2 separate regions of the Homo sapiens genome follow, and region 2 is linked to region 1. Evidence: fine-mapped expression QTL. A gene starts in region 1. The other region holds a variant in brackets. All regions are shown on one strand. Distances are from middle to middle.

Region 1 (5,362 bases):
TAGCACCACTGCACTCCAGCCTGGGTGAAAGAATGAAACCTGTCTAAACGAAAAACAAAAATTGAGCACCTGCTGTGTGCCTAGCTCTGTTCTGGACACGGACACGGTGAGATTACAGAAGAAAAAAAAGCAAATATTCCCACCTTCCTGGAGCAATTATTGTTATACATGGCTGTGAGGCAGCTATAATTCATTGTTTCTGTTTTTCTCCCTCCCCAAACAATTCTGTCCTAACCTGAGGCTCTCTTAGGAGGCTCTTTAGTGCCCTCTCCCCACCCCATTCATAAAATGGACTCCGTGGCTTTTTTTTCCCTTTTTCTTTTTTTAAAATTTTATTTAAAAAACCTTCGGTGCAATATTAAAAAGCAATACAGCCAGCTGGAGCGACAATCAACAGAAAGAAAAGAGGGAGGAGAGAAAAGGCCCGAGGAACCCCAACCCAGCTAGTCCCCTAGGGGCTGGAGGCCAGGGGCAGACTGAGAAGGGGGGCATGGGTGGTAGGGGAGGGAGGAAAGACCACCCACCAAAATAAACAGGCAGATCCAAACATTTATACAGGAAACATCTGGCTGAACGGAAGAGGATCTTGGGGAGATGAGAAGCCCCCCACATTTCATTTTTTTTTTCCTAAAATGTCCTGGACTGGGTGGGGAGGGTCAGCCACCTGGGGTTTAAGGAGCAATCCCCTCCCCACACCGACGTGCTGAGGAGCAGATGTGTGTGAGACAGACACAAGGGGCAAAGATAAGGACAAGAGGGTGCCCTCTCCTTGGAATCTGTTATGAGGGCTGAGGGTGTCCCCGTCCAGCTCCTGGACTCTGGGGGATCTTGGGTGAGATGGGGGCCGGAATGGGCTGGGGCAGGGGTGAGGCTGGGCGCTCAGCCTAAGAAGCCATCGGGGTCATCATCCTCAAAGTGGCCTTGCTGAAGCACCTTGATGTGGTGCTCGTAGATTTTCAGGGCTGGCCCGAGGCGGATGGACAGGCCGGTGAGCACATCTGTGCGCTGCATGAGCAGCAAAGATTTGCCATCAATTTCCTGGGTGGGACAGGAACAGAGAGAGCCGGGATCAGGGCACATCCCAGGGAGGCCCTCTGTGTCTGTCAGTGTGTAGTCCTGGGCTGGAAACTCACCTGCTCTTGGAAAGCTGTCGCCTGCTCCGGGAATCCAGCCTCAGTAAAATATTCGACGACATCCATCACGGTCCACTCGACGGGATCAGATGGCTTCTCTTTGCGCCCGGGACTGCATCAAAACAAACAGACACCAGTGAACACGGATGTCTCTCTGGCTGTACCACACACCTGAGCAGCACCCCCATGTCTCCAATACCCCAACTTACGGACAGCCAAAGGGGGTCCCGTCGGCCCCAGGTAGGGCTGGTTTGCCTGGGGGCAAAGGCACGGGGGACGGGGAGTCTGGCCCGGTGGCAACAGAAGCTGGGAAGGAAAAAAACACCTGTCTTTGGCTTTGTCTTCGGGCTGAGTTCCTCTCCACCTAGCACTCTTCCCCACCCAGAGGGATCCTTACCTGTTCCCCCTTCCTTGTTCATGGCTGCCATGGAGAACACCTGGCGGGTGCCGCTGCCCGGGGCTGGCCCCCGCCCTTCATCCTGGCCCTGGTGCGGTCCGCAGGGGGTCCACTCCTTGACCCTCTCCTTGGCACTCTGAGGTCCCCGCTCGCCGTTAAGCTGGTGGTGCTGGGCACCTGCAGGACGGTCACTCTCGGGCACTTCAGAGCCCTCTGACACATCATCTTCTTCATCTTCATCTTCATCATCATCTTCTTCCTCTTCTTTCTCAAGTACTCGCTCTTCTCCACCTCTCTGGAGCCGAGGAGAGAAGCATGCAAAATTAGTAGCTGTTCTAATCCCAGACCCTGACTGTGGCGTCCGGGCGGTGGGGAGGAGGAACCGATTCCACCTTTAAGAACAATACGGACTAACTTTTACGCATTCACTCCGTGCCAGGCTCTGTGTTAACTAAAGCCCTCGACAACCAAATCTTACTAAACTCGCTCAACAACCCCAAGGGGTCGCTACTGTTATTAAACCGCGTTTACAGCGGAGGAAACTGAGGCTCCGGGAGATTCAATCACTTGCCAAGGTCACCACGCACCGAGCCCGCAGGAAACGCGCGCAAAGCCCCAGCCACCCGCCACCCAGTTCCTCCCGGGACTCGCGCCCCCGCCACCAACTTCGCCCGCACCTGCCCACCGCGCGGCGCCCCCGCTCCCCGGCGCGCTCACCTTGCTGCGAGACGGGCGGGCGCTGGCGGCCGGCGGCGCCCGTCCGGGCCTGTCCCCGCGGGGCAGCGCAAGCGCTCCGAGACGGGTGCGCTCCAGACGGCCTCGAGCCGCCGCCTCCTCCTCCAGCAGCCCCTGCACGCGGCCGCGGGTTAGGCGACCGCCGGCGCCGCCGCTGCCCCCGAGGTAGCGCACGACTTCCCGCAGGCTCACGGGCCGCGCCGCGCCGCCGGCCCGCACCGCGCCCCCCTCCGGCGGCGGCTGTGGCTGCGGCGGCGGCGGCTGCTGCTGCTGTGGCGGCGCCGGCGGGGCCGGCGGGGTGGCTCCGCGCCGGGGCGGCTGGACGCGCGCCGCGTTGCGGTACGAGATGCTCCCCTTGTAGCTGACCCGGAGCACGGCGCGCTGCTGGATCAGTTTCTCGAGCTCGGCGCGCGTGCGCTCCGGCTCCGGGCCGTGCCGCCGCCGCACCATCCGGCAGATGCGCTCCAGGTCCGGCCGCGCCTTGCGCGAGCGCAGCGAGTCGATGGTGTCCAGGATCCACTCTTGGTAGTGCGGGGAAGCGGCGGACGACGAGGCGGCGGCCGCCGTGGTGGCGGCCGCCGCCGTCTCCGGCGGGGGTAGGGCCGGGGGCCCCGCCATGCCTCCCGCCCGGCCCGGCTGCACCGTGCGCGCTGCCTCCCTCCCAGCGCGGCGCCCCCCTCCCCGGCTCCCCTCCCTCCGCCGCTGCCCGCCTCCTCCGCCTCCCCCCCCGGGGGGCGCAGCGCCTCGGCGGAGCGGCGGCGGCGCTGCTGTTTCTTTGCAAAAAAAAAAAAAAAAAAAAGAGAGAGAGAGGGAGAGAGAGAGAGAGGAAAAAACAGTGAGAGAGAAAGAAAAGAGAGAAAAAAATATGCACACACTCACTCACTCGCACGCACGCACACACAGACCCGCTTCTGCTGGGCGCGCGCGGGGCCGGGGATGCGAGGGGGAGGAGGGGAGCGCGGCGCGGCCGGCCCCTCCCCGCCGCCGCCGCCGCCGCACGCGCGCCCTGCGCCCGGGACACTCCGGCCCCCCTTCCTTCCCTCCCTCCCTCCTCCCCGCCGCCCGCCTTCCTCCCTCCCACCCCCACGCGCCCGCTTTTAAGGTGGAGCCCGGGCCCCCCGCCCGCCCCCTTTACCCTGCGCTCTCGCTCACTCCGGCTCGCTCCGGCCCCCCCTTACAACTCCCGCGCGCTTTTTAAGGAGGCGCCGCGGAGTTGGCCCGGGGCGGGGGCGGGGGAAAGCGGCGGGCGGGGGAGGGGGAGGGGAGTGCCGGGGGGAGTGGAGAGGGGGCGGGCAGGGCGGGCGGGCGGCGCTCGGCCGCCCTCCAGCCATTGGGCGCGGGACCCAGACGTCCCCGGCGCCCAGCCCCCCTCTCCACGCCTCTCCAGCGCGCTCCGCTCTCGGGACCGCACTTACCGGGAACTCGCCGCCCGCGGGCCGGGGCTGCCGCGCTCGCAGGGTGCTGCGGGGACCCTCCTGCTGCCGCCGCCCCCGCGTCCCTCAGGCGCGCCTGGCCCGGCGCTGAGGATGCGGGAAGGGGGGCGCGCACCCTCTCCCCCTTCTACTCCCCCTGCCAGGGCCGCCCCCGCCGCCGCTCGGCCTCCTGGCGCGCCAGCCCCAGCGCCTCCCTAGAGCGCCCTCTCGGTCCCGGGCTGGACGCCGAGGGGGCGCGCCGCAGATTTGGGGACCCCGAATCTGGGGTCAAAGGGCAGTTTGACGCTCGTTTCTCCTGCGGGGCCGAAGGAGTGCCGGAATTTCAGCTAAACCCTGGTTACAAGGACTTCAAGCCAGGACCTGATCGGCCTGCACGCTGGGGTCCGAAATTCCCTTTCCAACCCCCTGGGGGTGTGTGGGTGGGTGATCGAAGTCGAGAACACCAGCGACACTTTTTTTTTAAACAAAACTTTATTGGTAATAGTTTTCAAATATGTTTACAACAGCACACTGTTCAAGAGGAAGTCTCGTCCTTCGCAGCACACAGGTTGAATCGCCCCCGCACCCACCCGGGGCCCCACCCCAGGCCTGAGAACTCCTCCTGGGATGGGGAGAAGTTATGAGAGGGGGAAATACGGGGATGAATGGGGTGGCTCCCCAGCGGCTCCCCACTTTTCTATTACGAGAGAAAAAAGCACAAATGAGAAAGTGGGGGAGAGGTGATGGACAGCTGACAGCTAAGCTGGAGGAGGGGCGCCCAGGATGGGGGAGGCGGAAGCTGGTGGGTGAGTAAAACAGGCAGCCCCTCCCCAGCAGCTCTAGCCTTGAACCCCGGGCCGTGGCTTGGGGGGACTTGGCCTCTTCTGTTCCCTTTTGCAGGGATGCCCTCCCCACTCAGCTGAGGGAAGGCTGGACGTTAAAATCTAGCGGAGAATAAAATTAAGGAGTTGGGGGGAAACGCTGCTGGGAGGAAAGACTTGGGCTTGGGGCTCCCCCTCTGTCTTTTTGGGGGATGACTCCTCTTTGGCAGGGAGAGGGGCAGCTGCTTTGTCTGGCTTTCAAAGCCCAAGGGTGAAGACAGGTCTGTTGGGGAAAAAGAGAGCGGAGGCTTCCTAAAGGGGCCTAGACCCTCGCAGGATTGGCAGAGAGGATTCCCCGGGGAGGGGCCCAGGGGAGATTAGCAGCGGGGAGGTTCAAACCCCAGCGCCTCCCTTTCCAAAGTCAGTCTGCTTCTCTTTAAAATGGATTTGAGGAATGGGGGGACATGGGAGGGGTGGGAGTAGAGGAAGGAGGGAGGGAGGCACTGGTGGAACTTAAATAAGATTTTAAATTGTTGTTTTTTTAAAAAAATTCTAGCAAGCAACCCACTGAACATGTCACTAAAAATCTCTCCTTCCCAGGCAGGATTACTCCGAAAGGAAGGTTGGCGCTTCGTTCATTTGCCCTTAGCAAGTGGGGCCTGTGGTTGGGTGGGATGGGGGTGTGGGTGGGGGCTGGAGTTAAGCGTGAGCCCCTCTTTCCATACCCTGTCCCTGGATACACCAGCAAGACCTGGTCTGACTGGAGTTGAGAAACTCGTTTAAAACAGGCAGAAGTGGGCTGGGAGGGCTGAGGGGCTGGGGGGCTGTGGGGAAAGAGGAAGGGAAAAGTGGGAGAGGGGGCAG
Region 2 (5,362 bases), 150 kb after region 1:
AAACCCACCCTGAGCCCATAGAGCCTTCCTCACCTGCACTGCCACCAGCCTGGGACAAGTCATTCTTGTCTGTCATCTGAATTGTAGCAAAGATCTCTCCTCCCTATCAAGCTCTATCCAGGTGGATCTGCTCAGCCAAGGTAGGCTTTTTAATTCTTTATTTTAGAGACAGCGTGTCATTTTGTTGCCCAGAAGGGAGTGAAGTGGTGCAATCATAGCTTACTGCAGCCTCAACCTCCTGGGCTTAAATGAGTCTCCTGCCTTAGCCTCCACAGCAGCTGGAACTACAGGTGCGTGCCACTGTGCTCAGCTAATTTTTTTTTTTTTTGAAATGGAGTCTCACTCACTCTGTCGCCCAGGCAGTGTGTCGCCCAGGCAGTGAGTACAGTGGTGTGATCTTGCCTCACTGTTACCTCCATCTCCCGGGTTCAAGTGATTCTCCTGCTTAGCCTCCCAAGTAGCTGGGATTACAGGTATGCACCACCCCACATGGCTAATTTTTGTATTTTTAGTAGAGATGGGGTTTTGCCACGTTGGCCAGGCTGGTCTCGAACTCCTGGCCTCAAGTGATCTGCCTGCCTCAGCTTCCCAAAGTGTTGGGATTACAGGTGTCAGCAACTGTGCCTGGCCTAATTTTAAATTTTTTGTAAAGATGTGGTCTCGAACCCCTAGCCTCAAGCGATCCTCCCACCTCCACCTCCTAAAGTGCTGGGATTACAGGCGTGAGCCACTGCATCCGGCCTCCTGCACTTCTTCCTTAAGCACATGCTCACCCAGTGCTTCCATTCATGCATGGGACCAGCACTCATTAAGCACTTACTGTATGTACCTGACCTCTGAGTATCCAACAGGCATTTTTCTCATTTAATCCTTGAAATGACCCTACTGTCATTGTACCTATATTATAGCCAGAGAAACAGAGGCACAGACCAGCAAAACCACTTACCTAAGGTGACTCAGTCAATGCCAGGCAGGGCTGGGATTTGTAGGTTTTTTTTGTTGTTTGAGACGGAGTCTTGCCCTGTCACCCAGGCTGGAGTGCAGTGGTGCTATCTCAGCTCACTGCAACCTCCACCTCCCGGGTTCAAGCGATTCTCGTGCCCCAGCCTCTCAAGTAGCTGGGATTACAGGTGTGCACCACCATGCCTGGCTGATTTTTTGTTTGTTTGTTTTCTTTTGTTTTGAGTCAGAGTTTCACTCTTGTTGCCCAGGCTGGAGTGCAGTGGCGCGATCTCGGCTCACTGCAACCTCCGCCTCCCAGGTTCCTGTGATTCTCCTGCCTCAGCCTCCCGAGTAGCTGGGATTACAGGCATGCGCCAACATGCCCAGCTAATTTTTTATATTTTTAGTAGAGACAGGGTTTCTCCATGTTGGTCAGCCTGGTCTCGAACTCCCAACCTCAGGAGATCTGCCCGCCTTGGCTCCCAAAATGCTGAGATTACAGGCATGAACCACCACGCCTGGCTTTTTTTCTTTTTTTTTTTTTTTGAGATGGAGTTTTGCTCTGTCACCAGGCTGGAGTGCAGTGGCGCGATCTTGGCCCACTGCAACCTCCGCCTCCTGGGTTCAAGCAATTCTCCTGCCTCAGCTTCCCAAGTAGCTGGGACTATAGGCGCATGCCACCACACCCGACTAATTTTTTGTATTTTAGTAGAGACGGGGGTTTCACCATGTTGGCCAGGATGGTCTCAATCTCGTGACCTTGTGATCTGCCCACCTCGGCCTCCCAAATGATTTTTGTATTTTTAGTAGAAACGGGGTTTCACCATGTTGGCCAGGCTGGTCTTGAACTCCTGACCCCAAGTGACTTGCCCGCTTCAGTCTCCTAAAGTCCTGGGATTACAGGCATGAGCTACTGCTGACCCCAGGGCTGGGATTTGAACCCACGCAGTTTCTATACCAGCCCTGGGGTCTTCATTGACATTCAGCTTATGCATCCAATGTGTTAATTCTCTCACTTCCAAACAGATGGGCGTTTCCAAGTGCCCAGAGACCCTGGCAGGTTTACATCTCTTGGCTTTATCCAGAAGGTGGTTTGGTCTTCAAGGCCGGGCACGGTGGCGCACACCTGTAATCCTAGCACTTTGGGAGGCCAGGCAGGCGGATCACCAGAGGTCAGGAGTTTCAGACCAGCCTGACCACCATGGAGAAACCCTGTTTCTACTAAAAATACAAAATTAGCCGGGCGTGGTGGCACATGCCTGTAATCCCAGCTACTCAGGAGGCTGAGGCAGGAGAATCGCTTGAACCCAGGAGGCAGAGGTTGTGGTGAATCAAGATCGCGCCATTGTACTCCGGCCTGGGAAACAAGAGCAAAACTCCGTCTCAAAAAAAAAAAAAGAAAAGAAGAGAACAGAAGGTGGTTTGGTCTTTCTCAGCTGCGCTGATGAACAGGCCCATTTCTTGTCCTCAGAGATAGGGTCTAGCGTAGCAGGGGAGTCAAGGCAGGTATCACTCAACTGAAATCCACAGGAACTACTCAACCCTGTGTAAGAGCACCTGGGATGTGTTAACTCTGCCTGGGAGAGATTTGGAAAGGCAGGAAGGACTCTTTTTGTTCGTCTTTGTTGGTTTTTGTTTTTTTTTTTTTGGATTGTTGTTTGTTTTGAGACAGAGTCTTGCTCTGTCGTACAGGCTGGAGTGCAGTGGTGAGATGTTGGTTCACTGCAACCTCTGCCTTTCCGGCAATTCTCCTGCCTCAGCCTCCTGAGTATATGAGATTACAAGTGCCTGTCACCATGCCTGGCTAATTTTTGTATTTTTAGTAGAGACGGGGTTTCACCATGTTGGCCAGGCTGGTCTTGAACTCCTGACCTCAAGTGATCCGCCTGCCTTGGCCCCCCAAAGTGCTAAGATTATAGGCGTAAGCCACCACAGCTGGCCCATCTTTGTATTCTGAGCCAGCTAAACACACAAAGGCCAGACTGGGGCAGGGCATGGTGGCTCATGCCTGTAATCCCACCATTTCAGCAGGCCAAAGTGGGAGGATTGCTTGAGGATTGCTTCAAGACCAGCTTGGGCAACATAGCGAGACCCAATCTCTTAAAAAATAACAAAAAATTAGCTGGATGTGGTGGCACACACCTGTAGTCTCAGCTACTCCAGAGGCTGAGGCAGGAGGATTCCTTGAGCCTGGGAGATTGTTAGCCTGGGTGACGGAATGAGGCCTTGTCTCT[T/TA]AAAAAAAAAAAAAAAAAAAGGCCGGGCGCAGTGGCTCATGCCTGTAATCCCAGCACTTTGGGAGGCCAAGGTGGGTGGATCACCAGGTCAGGAGATCGAGACCATCCTGGCCAACATGGTGAAACCCCGTCTCTACTACAAATAAAAAATTAGCTGGGTGTGGTGTTGTGTGCCTGTAATCCCAGCTACTCGGGAGGCTGAGGCAGGAGAATCGCTTGAACCAGGTAGTCGGAGGTTGCAGTGAGCCGAGATCGCGCCACTGCACTTCAGCCTGGTGACAGAGCGAGACATCATCTAAAAAAAAAAAAAAAAAAATGCCAAAGTGGGTAAATGACTTGCCGCAGGTCACACAGCCTGGAAGTCCGAAGGAGCCTTTGCAAGAAATCTTGCTGCTTTCAACCCTCCTTGTTAGTCTCCCAGGCTGCTGTAAGGAAGTGCTACCCATTGGGTGGCTTAAAGCAACAGAGATTTATTCTCTTCCACACCTGGAGGCCAGAAGCCTGGAATCAAGGTGTTGACAGGACCATGTTCCCTCTGAAACTTGCAAGGGAGACTCCTTCCTTGCCCCTGCCTGGCCAGCGGGCATTGGTGGTGGCCAGCAATGCTGGGTGCTCCTTGGCTTGTAGATGATGCATCTCTCCAATCTCTGCATCATCCAGTCTCTGCCTCCTCCATCACATGGACTCTCCCTCGTGTACTTGTGTCTATTCTCTTCTTACCAAGACACTGGTCGTATTGGCTGGGCGCAGTGGCTCACGCCCGTAATCCCAGCACTTTGGGAGGCTGAGGCGGGCGGATCACTTGAGGTCAGGAGTTCGAGACCTGAGGCAAGTTGCAATTTTTAGCCCCATTTTATAGATGAAGCCACTGAGTCTTGGATAATAACATGCTCATTCTTCCTGGAACCACCCAGAAGACTTCTGCTGGAGTCTTATTGGCCGGAAGAGTGTCACACAGCCATCTCTAGAAGGAAGGGAGTTGGGAGGCTGAGGTAGGCGGATCACTTGAGGTCAGGAGTTTGAGATCAGCCTGGCCAACATGACGAAACCCCGTCTCTACTAAAAATACAAAAAATTAGCCGGGCATGGTGGTGGGTGCCTGTAATCCCAGCTACTCGGGAGGCTGAGGTAGGAGAGTAGCTTGAACCTGGGAGGCGGAGGTTGCAGTGAGCTGAGATTGCACCACTGTCCTCCAGCCTGGGTAACAGAGTGAGACTCTGTCCCCAAAAATAAATAAATAAATAAATAAATAAATAAAATAGAAGCAAGCGGGACTTGAAGGCTGGAATAATGGCAAGGGGAGCTGGAAGAGGGGCTGGAAGACAAAAAAAATACATAAACACATAAATAAATAAAATAGAAGCAAGGGGGGCTGGAGGGCAAGGATTAGGCAGGGCACACTGACACTTAAGGAGCCCTGTGTTAGCAAAGGAAAGAGATAGGTGTGAATTTGACAAACTGTGTCTCCCACAATTCTCCCTGCCTCTGAATCTGGATGAAGTATATTGAGTGCCCGCTAAGGACTAAGCACTATGCTACAGACTCACGGCAAATTATTCCTTTTTTTTTTTTGAGATGAAGTTTTGCTCTTGTTGCCCAGGATGGAGTGCAATGGCACGATCTCGGTTCACTACAACCTCTGCCTCCCAGGTTCAAGCAATTCTCCTGTCTCAGCCTCATGAGTAGCTGGGATTACAGGTGCACACCACCATGCCCGGCTAATTTTTGTATTTTTAGTAGAGGTGGAGTTTCACCATGTTGACCAGACTGGTCTTGAACTCTTGACCTCAGGAGATCTGCCCACCTCGGCCTCCCAAAGTGTTGGGATTACAGGCGTGAGCCACTGCACCCAGCCTTCAAGGCAAATTCTTTTTTTTTTCCCCCTGAGATGGAGTTTCACTCTGTCATCCAGGCTGGAGTCCAGTGGTGTGATCTCAGCTCACTGCAACCTCTGCCTCCTGGGTTCAAGCGATTTTCCTGCCTTAGCCTCCCGAGTAGCTGGGATTACAGGTACACGCCACCACGCCCAGCTAAGTTTTTGTATTTTTAGTAGAGACAGGGTTTCACCATGTTGGCCAGGCGGTCTCAAACTCCTGACCTCAGTGATCTGCCCACCTTGGCCTCCCAAAGTGTTGGGATTACAGGCATGAGCCACTACGCCCGGCCAAGACCTCAACTCTTAAATA

Which allele goes with the higher level. Positions count from the first base shown, and alleles are read on the strand shown. Sizes are in standard deviations (SD) of each study's normalised expression.
For the expression in monocytes of the gene that starts at base 3,214 in region 1, allele T in region 2 goes with a lower level than allele TA (large effect, 0.80 SD a copy in Quach 2016).

Evidence for each region. PIP is the estimated chance that this variant, and not a neighbour inherited with it, causes the effect.
Region 2: its variant is fine-mapped to the expression of SAMD1 in monocytes (Quach 2016, PIP 0.95).

What each region holds. Positions count from the first base shown.
Region 1 is chr19:14,087,538-14,092,899 of GRCh38, forward strand. It overlaps SAMD1 (sterile alpha motif domain containing 1), which reads right to left and starts at 3,214. Exons shown (of 5, transcript NM_138352.3): 1 at 2,248-3,214; 2 at 1,531-1,825; 3 at 1,343-1,439; 4 at 1,134-1,245; 5 at 314-1,038. The coding sequence starts at 2,883. The coding sequence ends at 880. It overlaps PRKACA (protein kinase cAMP-activated catalytic subunit alpha), which reads right to left. Exons shown (of 10, transcript NM_002730.4): 10 at 4,151-5,362. RefSeq lists an enhancer at 1,066-1,575 and silencers at 2,220-2,269, 2,570-2,829, 3,160-3,379, 3,520-3,569, 3,620-3,949.
Region 2 is chr19:14,239,880-14,245,241 of GRCh38, forward strand. No RefSeq gene overlaps it. Among named protein-coding and RNA genes, the nearest start is that of ADGRL1, 36 kb to the left of the region's middle. The variant T/TA (reference allele first, on the strand shown) is at 3,177.